2 linked regions of the Homo sapiens genome follow. The protein of the gene in region 2 interacts with the protein of the main gene of each other region in a pairwise test. Each region holds a gene or a part of one and is shown on either strand. Other genes may lie near its edges. The genes, in order: LEFTY2 and ACSS3.

Region 1 (4,403 bases), on a different chromosome or scaffold from region 2:
ATTGTCAAAGATATTTTTAAATAAAATAAATCATACAATTCTCCTGCCACAGCCTCCCAAGTAGCTGGGATTACAGGCGCCCGCCACCACGCCCAGCTAATTTTTATATTTTTAGTAGAGACGGGGTTTCACCATGTTGGCCAGGCTGGTCTGGAATTCCTGACCTCAGGTGACCCGCTGGCCTCCACTCCCAAAGTGCTGGGATTACAGGCGTGAGCCACCATACTTGGCCTTACAATTTTTTTTTTGTCGTTTCTTTAAAACTTTTTTTTTTTATTTATTTTTTTAAGGATAGGATTTCACTGTGTGGCCGAGGCTGGTGTCAAACTCCTGGCTTTAAGCAATCCTCCACCTCAGCTTCCCAAAGTGTTGGGATTACAGGCATGAGCCACTGCGCCTGGCCTGAATAATATAATATTTCTTTTTCTTTTCTTTTCTTTGTTTCCTTTTTTTTTTTTTTTTTTTGAGACAGAATCACGCTCTGTCCTCCAGGCTGGATGGAGTGCAGTGGTGTGATCTCAGCTCACTGCAACCTTCACCTCCCGGATTCAAGTGATTCTCCTGCCTCAGCCTCCTGAGTAGCTGGGATTACAGGCACGCGCCACCACGCCCGGCTAATTTTTGTATTTTTGGTAGACACGGGGTTTCATCATGTTGGTCAGGCTGGTCTCAAACTCCTGATCTTGTGATCCAGCCCGCCTCGGCCTCCCAAAGTGCTAGGATTACAGGTCTGAGCCACCACGCCTGGCCAACAATACAATTTCTGCCATTAGAAACCCTGACATGTAGTGGGCAATCGCTGGCATCCTGGGACAGTCTGCACCGCGCTCTCCCTACCCCTAGCCCACCGCCACCATCCGGTCCCCCAGACAGTCCTGGGGACGGGGGTCTGGACCACTCAGTGGCTGCTTGCCTCCCTTCTGCCCAGTCCTGCACCTACCCATAGTCCCTGAGGTCCAGGGTGTGCAGCTCCAGCTGGGGCTCCCCAAGCCCGGCTGGCGCCCCCTGCGAGGCAAAGCGGACCAGCTTGTGGGCGCCGGACGCCAGCGGGCCCAGATGCTCCCTCTGCACCGACACCTGTAGCAGCAGCGGCTGCCGGGGCCGGCTCAGCTGCTGCCAGAAGTTCACGGCCTCGGTCACGTCGAAGGCCTTCCAGCCGCTCTCGTGGACGGACACCAGCCTGAGACATGATACACACGACACGGAGACCCAGCGCCGCTTGAGGGCGGGGACTGGGACGGGCCCCGAGGACCCTGCACCGCCCCCTGCGTCCCCGCCCCCAAGCCGGGCCGAGCAGCCTCCTACTCCTGCCCTGCGCGCCCGCGCGACCCCCACCTGGAGTCGATGAGGGAGGTGCGGTTGGAGCCGTCGTCGCGGACGCGCAGCCACTCGACGGTCACCCGGGCCTGGGCGCTGCGCGGGGACAGCCGCCCGTGCCTGTGCAGCGCGGCCTTGGGGACCGGCTCCTGGAAGAGCCGCAGCACGGCCTGCACCAGCTCGCTGTTGGGCGGCAGCCGCTGCTCCATGCCGAACACCAGCAGGTGTGTGCTGGCCTCCGACGCCAGGAACCTGCCGGCCACCTCTGGGGACAAGAGCAGGGTCAGCAGGGCCTCCCCGGACTCCAGCGGAGCTCTGAGGATGGCAGGGCCACTGAGCTGGCAGCCAGGCCAGGAGACACCGGCCCTGTTCTATCTCTGGGGCAAACCCAGTTTACAAATCTTCCTTGGATCTGGGCCTTGTTTAGTAACAATTTCCATCCAGCAGGCAGGGGGGCCTGTGGGACCCTGGCTAGCAAGTTTGCCTCAGCTGAGATGCTGGGAGCAGAATCCTCACCCAGGTGCCTGGCACTGGCTCTAGCTCTGGGCACTGAGGAGCTAGGGAGGCGAGAGGCTGCAGGAGGATTCAGGCCCAGTTGCACCCCTGACAGCCAGGTATAACCCAGGTAGTCTACTTAGGTATTTTTCAGTTATCCAAACACGCTTCTATCCACAAGGACTCACTTTGACGTTCACAGTGCTGGGAGATGGCGAAGACATAGTCATACCCCTGTTCCAGATGAGCACATGGTGGAGAGAGGATTTTAAAGCCATTTACTCAAGGTCAGGCTCAGACCAGAGTGGCAGTGTGAAAACATACCCTGGGAGTCCAGCTGCACCAAGTGCCTTGAGGCACACACTCACCTGCTCCCCCAGCTCTACTTTCTCTCCTCTACCCTCCCCTTCTCTGAAGTCTTGGTTTTTCCAGCAGGTCTAGCCTGGTGCACCTCCCCTGGGCTGGAGGGGGGCCTCAGTGCACAGCTGGAGACCCTGGACCCAGGCCCGGCTCCTCCTCACTGCTCCTTGGACCGTGGCCCTCACACAGCCTCCCACAGAGTCCCAAAAGGCCAGGGGCCCTTCGACACCTCCAGAGTGGGCACAACCGGCCTGCCCCCGACCATGGGACCGGGGCCAGCAGGGAGGGAGGGTCTCACCTCGGAAGCTCTGGCTGAACCTCTTTCCGCGGGAGCGGTCCCCGTGGCTGCGCCGCAGCAGGACTACATACTGGGCCCTCACGTGGGCGGGGATGACCAGCTTCTCCATGTCGGCCCTGTCCAGTACGGGCACCTCGCTGAGCTGCAGCTGCCGCAGCAGGCTGCCCAGGAGCTGCTCCTCGGTCAGGGCCGCCCCGGGGCCAGCCAGGGGCAGCACCCAGAGTGCCCAGCAGAGCCACAGGGGCCACATGGTGCTGCCCTGGGGGAGCAGGAGGCAGAGTGGGGCTGTCCTCTAGGGAGGTTGAAGGAGGGTCTCAGGCAGCTGGGTGTGCTGAGAGCCAGGCTGGGCCAGCTTTATAGCTGGCCCTGGGCTGGCCTGGGGTGAAGGGAAGAGGGAGGGAGGGAGGGAGGGAGGTCACACCCCTGGGACCTCCTGGGAGCTCACAGCCAGACAGGTCCCTGAGCCTGGAGGAGGGGGCTGTCTAGAAAGGACAGGGCTGTCTGGATGCCACCCAGGCCTGGGGCCTCTGGCTGTGCTGTCAGCAGCTTGACAATATTTTTAGTGCCTGTTGAATTTTCCTGGCCTTACCCCAGCCCTGTTCTATGAAAAAGTGAGTCTATTCTGTGAAAAACAAAGTCCTGCTAGCCAGCTGCTTAAATCTCTTTAAGTCTCTTCTGGAGGCTGGGCTGGGTCCAGGTCTGCAAATCATAAAGGAAGGGCGGGAAGGATTCTGCCTTCCTGCTGGTTCTGGCCACATTCACAGAAGCCCCTTGGTCATCTCCCTCCAACCTACACTCCTTGCACACCCCCTGCCTCTCCCCACACCAGGGGTCCCTCAGGGTTGTCGCACCGTCCTTGCCCTCCCCCCATGACATCCTCTGTCTAGACACGGTCAGGACACAAATCTGGCAGCTCTACTGTCTTTAGGAGTCCCAGGAACAGCAATTTCAGCAAGTGCCTTTGCAGTCACGTGACCACAGCACAGGAGTCCTCCCTTCAGACAGCAGAATTATTCTGGGGTGTGCTCTCCCCAGTGAGCTGGCTGGCCGGTTCATGCCACCAGCACTCAGCTGGAGCCCAGGTCATTTCCAGACACAGACAAGGGACAGGGACTTAGAAAGCAGAGGCCAGAGCTGCCCAAAGGCATGGCCTGTCCAAAGCCACAGGTACTGGGGGCAGATTGAGGTGGGAGCCCCCCTGTGTCTCTTCAAACACACATTTTAGACTGGCCACGTTCAAATATGAGAACTGCCATCTGCTAACTGTTTGACCTGCTAGCAAGTGAGTTAACTTCTCAGTGCCTCAGTTTCCTCATCTACAGAAAGAGGGTGATGATCATAAGGTCTTCTTCATAGGGTTAGTGTGAAGATTAAATGCATTAATACATGCAGGATGTTTCACCCAGTGTCTAGTGACAGGTAAACACTCTGTAAGGGTTTGCTATCATTATTATCTGCCTGAAATCTGCATTCACAGGGTCGTGGCTTTTTGCATTTTTTTTTTTTTTTTGACGTAGCCTCACTCTGTCACCCAGGCTAGAGTGCAGTGGCGCGATCTAGGCTCACTGCAACCTCTGCCTCCTGGGTTCAAGCAATTCTCCTGCCTCGGCCTCCCGAGTAGCTGGGACTACAGGCGCATGCCACGCCCGGCTAATTTTTTGTATTTTTAGTAGAGATGGGGTTTCACCGTGTCAGCCAGAATGGTCTCGATCCCCTGACCTGGTGATCCGCCTGCCTTGGCCTCCCAGAGTGCTGGGATTACAGGCATGAGCCACCGTGCCGGGCCAGGTCGTGGCTTTTTATAAAACTCTCAACAACAATAATAGCACACATTTCCTGAGTGCATGTGCCAGTCATTGTTCTAAGCTCTGAATGTGTATTCACACAGCCCTTAGGAGGCAGGTGTCAGTTTCAGGTGCATCTTGCAGATGCA
Region 2 (3,810 bases):
GAGGTGAGAGGTAGAAGCTTATGAAAGTTGAAGTGAAAGAGAGAAAGAAAGGGAAGAGAAGAGGAAAATAGTAAGGACTGAACTTTGGGAAAAAGTGGGAGAAAAAAAAACTATGGAAATGGATGAGACATTCAAAGAAAGAGGAAAAGAAAGAGCAAGATATTCTAGTGTCATGCATTGTAAAGGAGAGAAAAGATAAAAATAGTGGTCAAGGGCTCTAGAGATGCTTTGAGGCTATTGAAAATCAAAAAAATATCTGCTGTGACTCAGAGATTCTTGATGACTTTCTATAATATGATATCAATGGTGAGATAAGGGCCAAAGCCAGAATAGCACATTACAGAGTGAACTGGTATAGGCAAAAACATTCCATGAGGATATTCGACAGTGACAGGAAGATGAAACAGGATAATATATGGCAGTATGGTGGTATCTGGGTCAAGTAAAATAAGTTTCTTCCTCATTCCTTATTTCCTCTCCTCCCTTTAAGAAGAAATCTATGTTTAAATGCAGAAGTGAAGAAATTATGAAATAGGAATGAAGGGAATTTTGCTTGTTTTGAAGCCTACTGCTCAACAGGACTCCTTGTTTTTGCAAGTTGAACTTTGTGTGGTTTCTTATGTTAATTTTTTGCTTTTGCTGCTACAAGTTACTGAAAGAAACAGGTTGCAAAAGTCTCAGAATTGGTATAAAGAGTACTCAGTAGATCTGTTTGTTCTTTTTAAATACTACAGTGATTCTAGTGAGCTAAATATCTCAATATTTGTTTGTGAGTCTGACAGGGAGGATAAGGAAGCAGCTGAAAAGGGAAAAGATAATGAATATTTGTTGAGTCCTTTCTCTGAACTATCAACTATACAGTAGAGTCACATATTTCCATTTATTCCTTCCCCAGATGCTGCAAAGTTAGTATTATCATGCCTTTTCTACATATGAGGGAATTGAATCTTAAGGCCACACAGCTAGTTAGCAGAGGCTAGACCTGGGTTAGTATTAATAGCTCCAGTGGCTAAGCCCAGAATCTTTTCCTCCAAATATCAAGGGAACTGTTCCGAAGGCAGGTTGCCAAATCTTGGCCAACCTGAAAAAGATTTTTGGCTACTAAATTGAAGGAGACCAAAGAGATATGAATTAAATGCAAAAGGTAGTTTCTGAATATTTTCACCATAATTGATATTTTTGAGGACAAGTAAGAAGCCAGAACAGGATTTCAGGATTGGATGGTGGTAATGTGTCAATATTAGTTTCCTGAAGTTGATGGTTATAGTATCGTTCTCTAGAAGAATGTCCTTATTTATAACAATTACATATTAAATTATTCTAGGGTTCTTGGGCATCATGTCAGTAAATGTTTCAAAGGGAAAAAAAAAGTACTTTATCTTGTAATCGCAAATTTTCTGTGAGTTTGAGATTGCTTCAAAGGAAAATAAATACAAATATAATGGGGATTTTATGTATCCAGAAAGCAATTTAATCCCCCTATTGAACTTTGGCTCTTTGGCAAACAAATGCTCAGCTACATTAAACTGTTTGGGAAATTCAGTATTTGTCAGATATTTTTAAAATTACATTTAATTCTGGTTTGAAGGTGAGAGTGTTATATAAAGAGGAAGAATTTTTCTCCTTTTGACAAACTCTAAATTAAATGAATTTATTCATAGCGTTGTACACAGTAAAGGTATATTTAAAATATAAAATCATCATTATTTTATAGATTTAAAAATATTTTAAGAAGGTATCTGCTTGGCATGAAAAATTGCCTGTTAGAAATAAGGCCTCTCAAAATAACCTCATCAAGAAAGACCAGTTTTAAAAGATGGGCCTTATTTTATATTCTGAAGGTCAGCAGCTTGGTACTGTGCCGTATCTAATTTTCTCAGCCTGTCATGCTGCTGAACCTTCAGGACAGAACAGAGTGAACTACAGGAATGCTGCAATTACATAAGCAAGGATGGATTGCCTGGCAAATGGCGCAATCAATGAACAATGGAAATTCAATCGGCTGTGACTGATCAACTACTAGGTGTTGGGGGAAAATCCACACTCTTATCACCGCCTGAAAGGTGGCTTACTTTTCTTTTGTCATGCCACATATAGTATTAGTTGAAAGGACAAAAAAAATCCAGTGGTTGAAGTTGTTTGCTTGTTCTTCTTCTTCTTTTTATTTTTTTTTATTCTACTTTCATAAGCAACAAGCTGCAACTCCATGAGGGAGATCATTGCTTTCCACTGTGGTGTGACATTTGTAAGAAAAATGTGTAGGAGGCTAATGAATCTTTGCAATTATATATATGAATGTAATAACCTCTCTAAATTACAGTTTCAAGTATATGTGAATGTGGAGCTCAAATCCTTTATCTAAACTACGTGGATAGGGAACTTGTTATATTAAAGGTATTAATTATATTTGTTTTTGTCAGTGTTTTAGTTGAATGAGGTAAGGAACAGTGCATAGAAAGGATAGGTATTATTTTTATAATATCTTAGGAAAATTAAAATTTGTGAATTTTGAGTTTGAAGGAGTCCAATTGGAAATACGAGGATAGTAAAAAACAGAAGGTCTTTCAAATACTAAATTAGAGAGGGACAGAGTTTAATTATATGGCTTTAATAATTTAAAACATTAATTGCCTTAAGAGGGAGGAAAGCAATTAAAGTCTGTAGGTCTTTGACTTATGACCTGACTCTGGACAATAGGAATACCTTCTCTTAAGGTGTTTATGGTAGAATAACAACACTTGCCAAGTATAATCTTTCAAGGTGTCATTGCTAAGTGGATGCAGCAGTTAAGTAAAATAAATTTGGTAAGATGAAGAAGAAGGAGCAGGAGAAGAAGAAGAGCAGGAGGAGGAGGAAGGAGGAAAGAGGAAGAGAAGAAGAAGAAAAGAAGGAGGAAGAAAAAGAATGCTTAATTTCTACTGTAGATCTGGCCAGTATAGATATCTGTAGAAAAATTTAGTAAGACTAAAAAAAAAATTAGTCACTCCGTATTATTGTCCATTTGCTAAATAACTTTAATCTAATGAGTGCATGGGAGCTTAGAAAAGTCCACTTTTGCGCTAATCTCACTTTGCATTCTCTCCATACATTTTTTCTTATTTTCATAGAATTCCATTGATTTTCAATTGAGAGGCAAGTATTTTTCTATAATAAACCACAAATACCTAGACTGTGCCTTCCTCTAACTCTCCCTCCCAACTCTCCCTCCTTAAGTACAGATGAAATTTGCCACTCTTATCAATGGGATTTGTTGGATACCCTAATTTTGGTGGTTAGGAGGAAAAAGTATTGAGAATTAGTTAGTGGAGAAAACAAACTGATTTCTGGTTCAAAATCTTGGCTCTACTCTTTGAACAGTATCTTGGTCCAAATAATTATAATACGGAAGAATTATAAAATGCATACTGTGATGGGTATTACTATTTTTTGTGTTGTTTCTTTTCTCGTCTGTTCTCTTCTGCTAATATGTAGGAAGATTGGTCTTCCCCACATATACGTGATTATGCGATTAGCTTTGGCCACTGCAATAAGAGGAGCAAGGCTTTTCACTTAGTTAATTGCCAGAGCTTCAATTCTTAGTTCTTTCTCATCTACCATGGCCATTTGGAAGTACATGTAGAATAGAAGCAGTTTGGATTGCTAAGCAAAAACGTATAGATGACAATGTTTTGGGGAGTCTACCTGAACCCACAATGGAGTGGCGTGAGTGAGAAATAAACATTTATTTTTGCAAGTTACTGAGATTTTGCAATCGTTACCGTATGGCATAATCCAGCCTGTCCTTACTGATTGAGGGGTAAATAATAACTT

The links.
Region 1: the proteins of ACSS3 (region 2) and LEFTY2 interact in a two-hybrid assay, tested with the Homo sapiens proteins (one large-scale study listed by BioGRID and IntAct).

What each region holds. Positions count from the first base shown.
Region 1 is NC_000001.11:225,938,421-225,942,823, forward strand, and holds the start of LEFTY2 (left-right determination factor 2 isoform 1 preproprotein), read right to left. Parts: upstream 2,801-4,403; 5' UTR 2,721-2,800; coding exon 2,471-2,720; intron 1,583-2,470; coding exon 1,336-1,582; intron 1,181-1,335; coding exon 941-1,180; intron 1-940.
Region 2 is NC_000012.12:81,084,570-81,088,379, forward strand, and holds part of ACSS3 (acyl-CoA synthetase short-chain family member 3, mitochondrial isoform 1 precursor), read left to right. Parts: intron 1-3,810. UniProt on the Homo sapiens protein: Catalyzes the synthesis of acetyl-CoA from short-chain fatty acids. Propionate is the preferred substrate. Can utilize acetate and butyrate with a much lower affinity.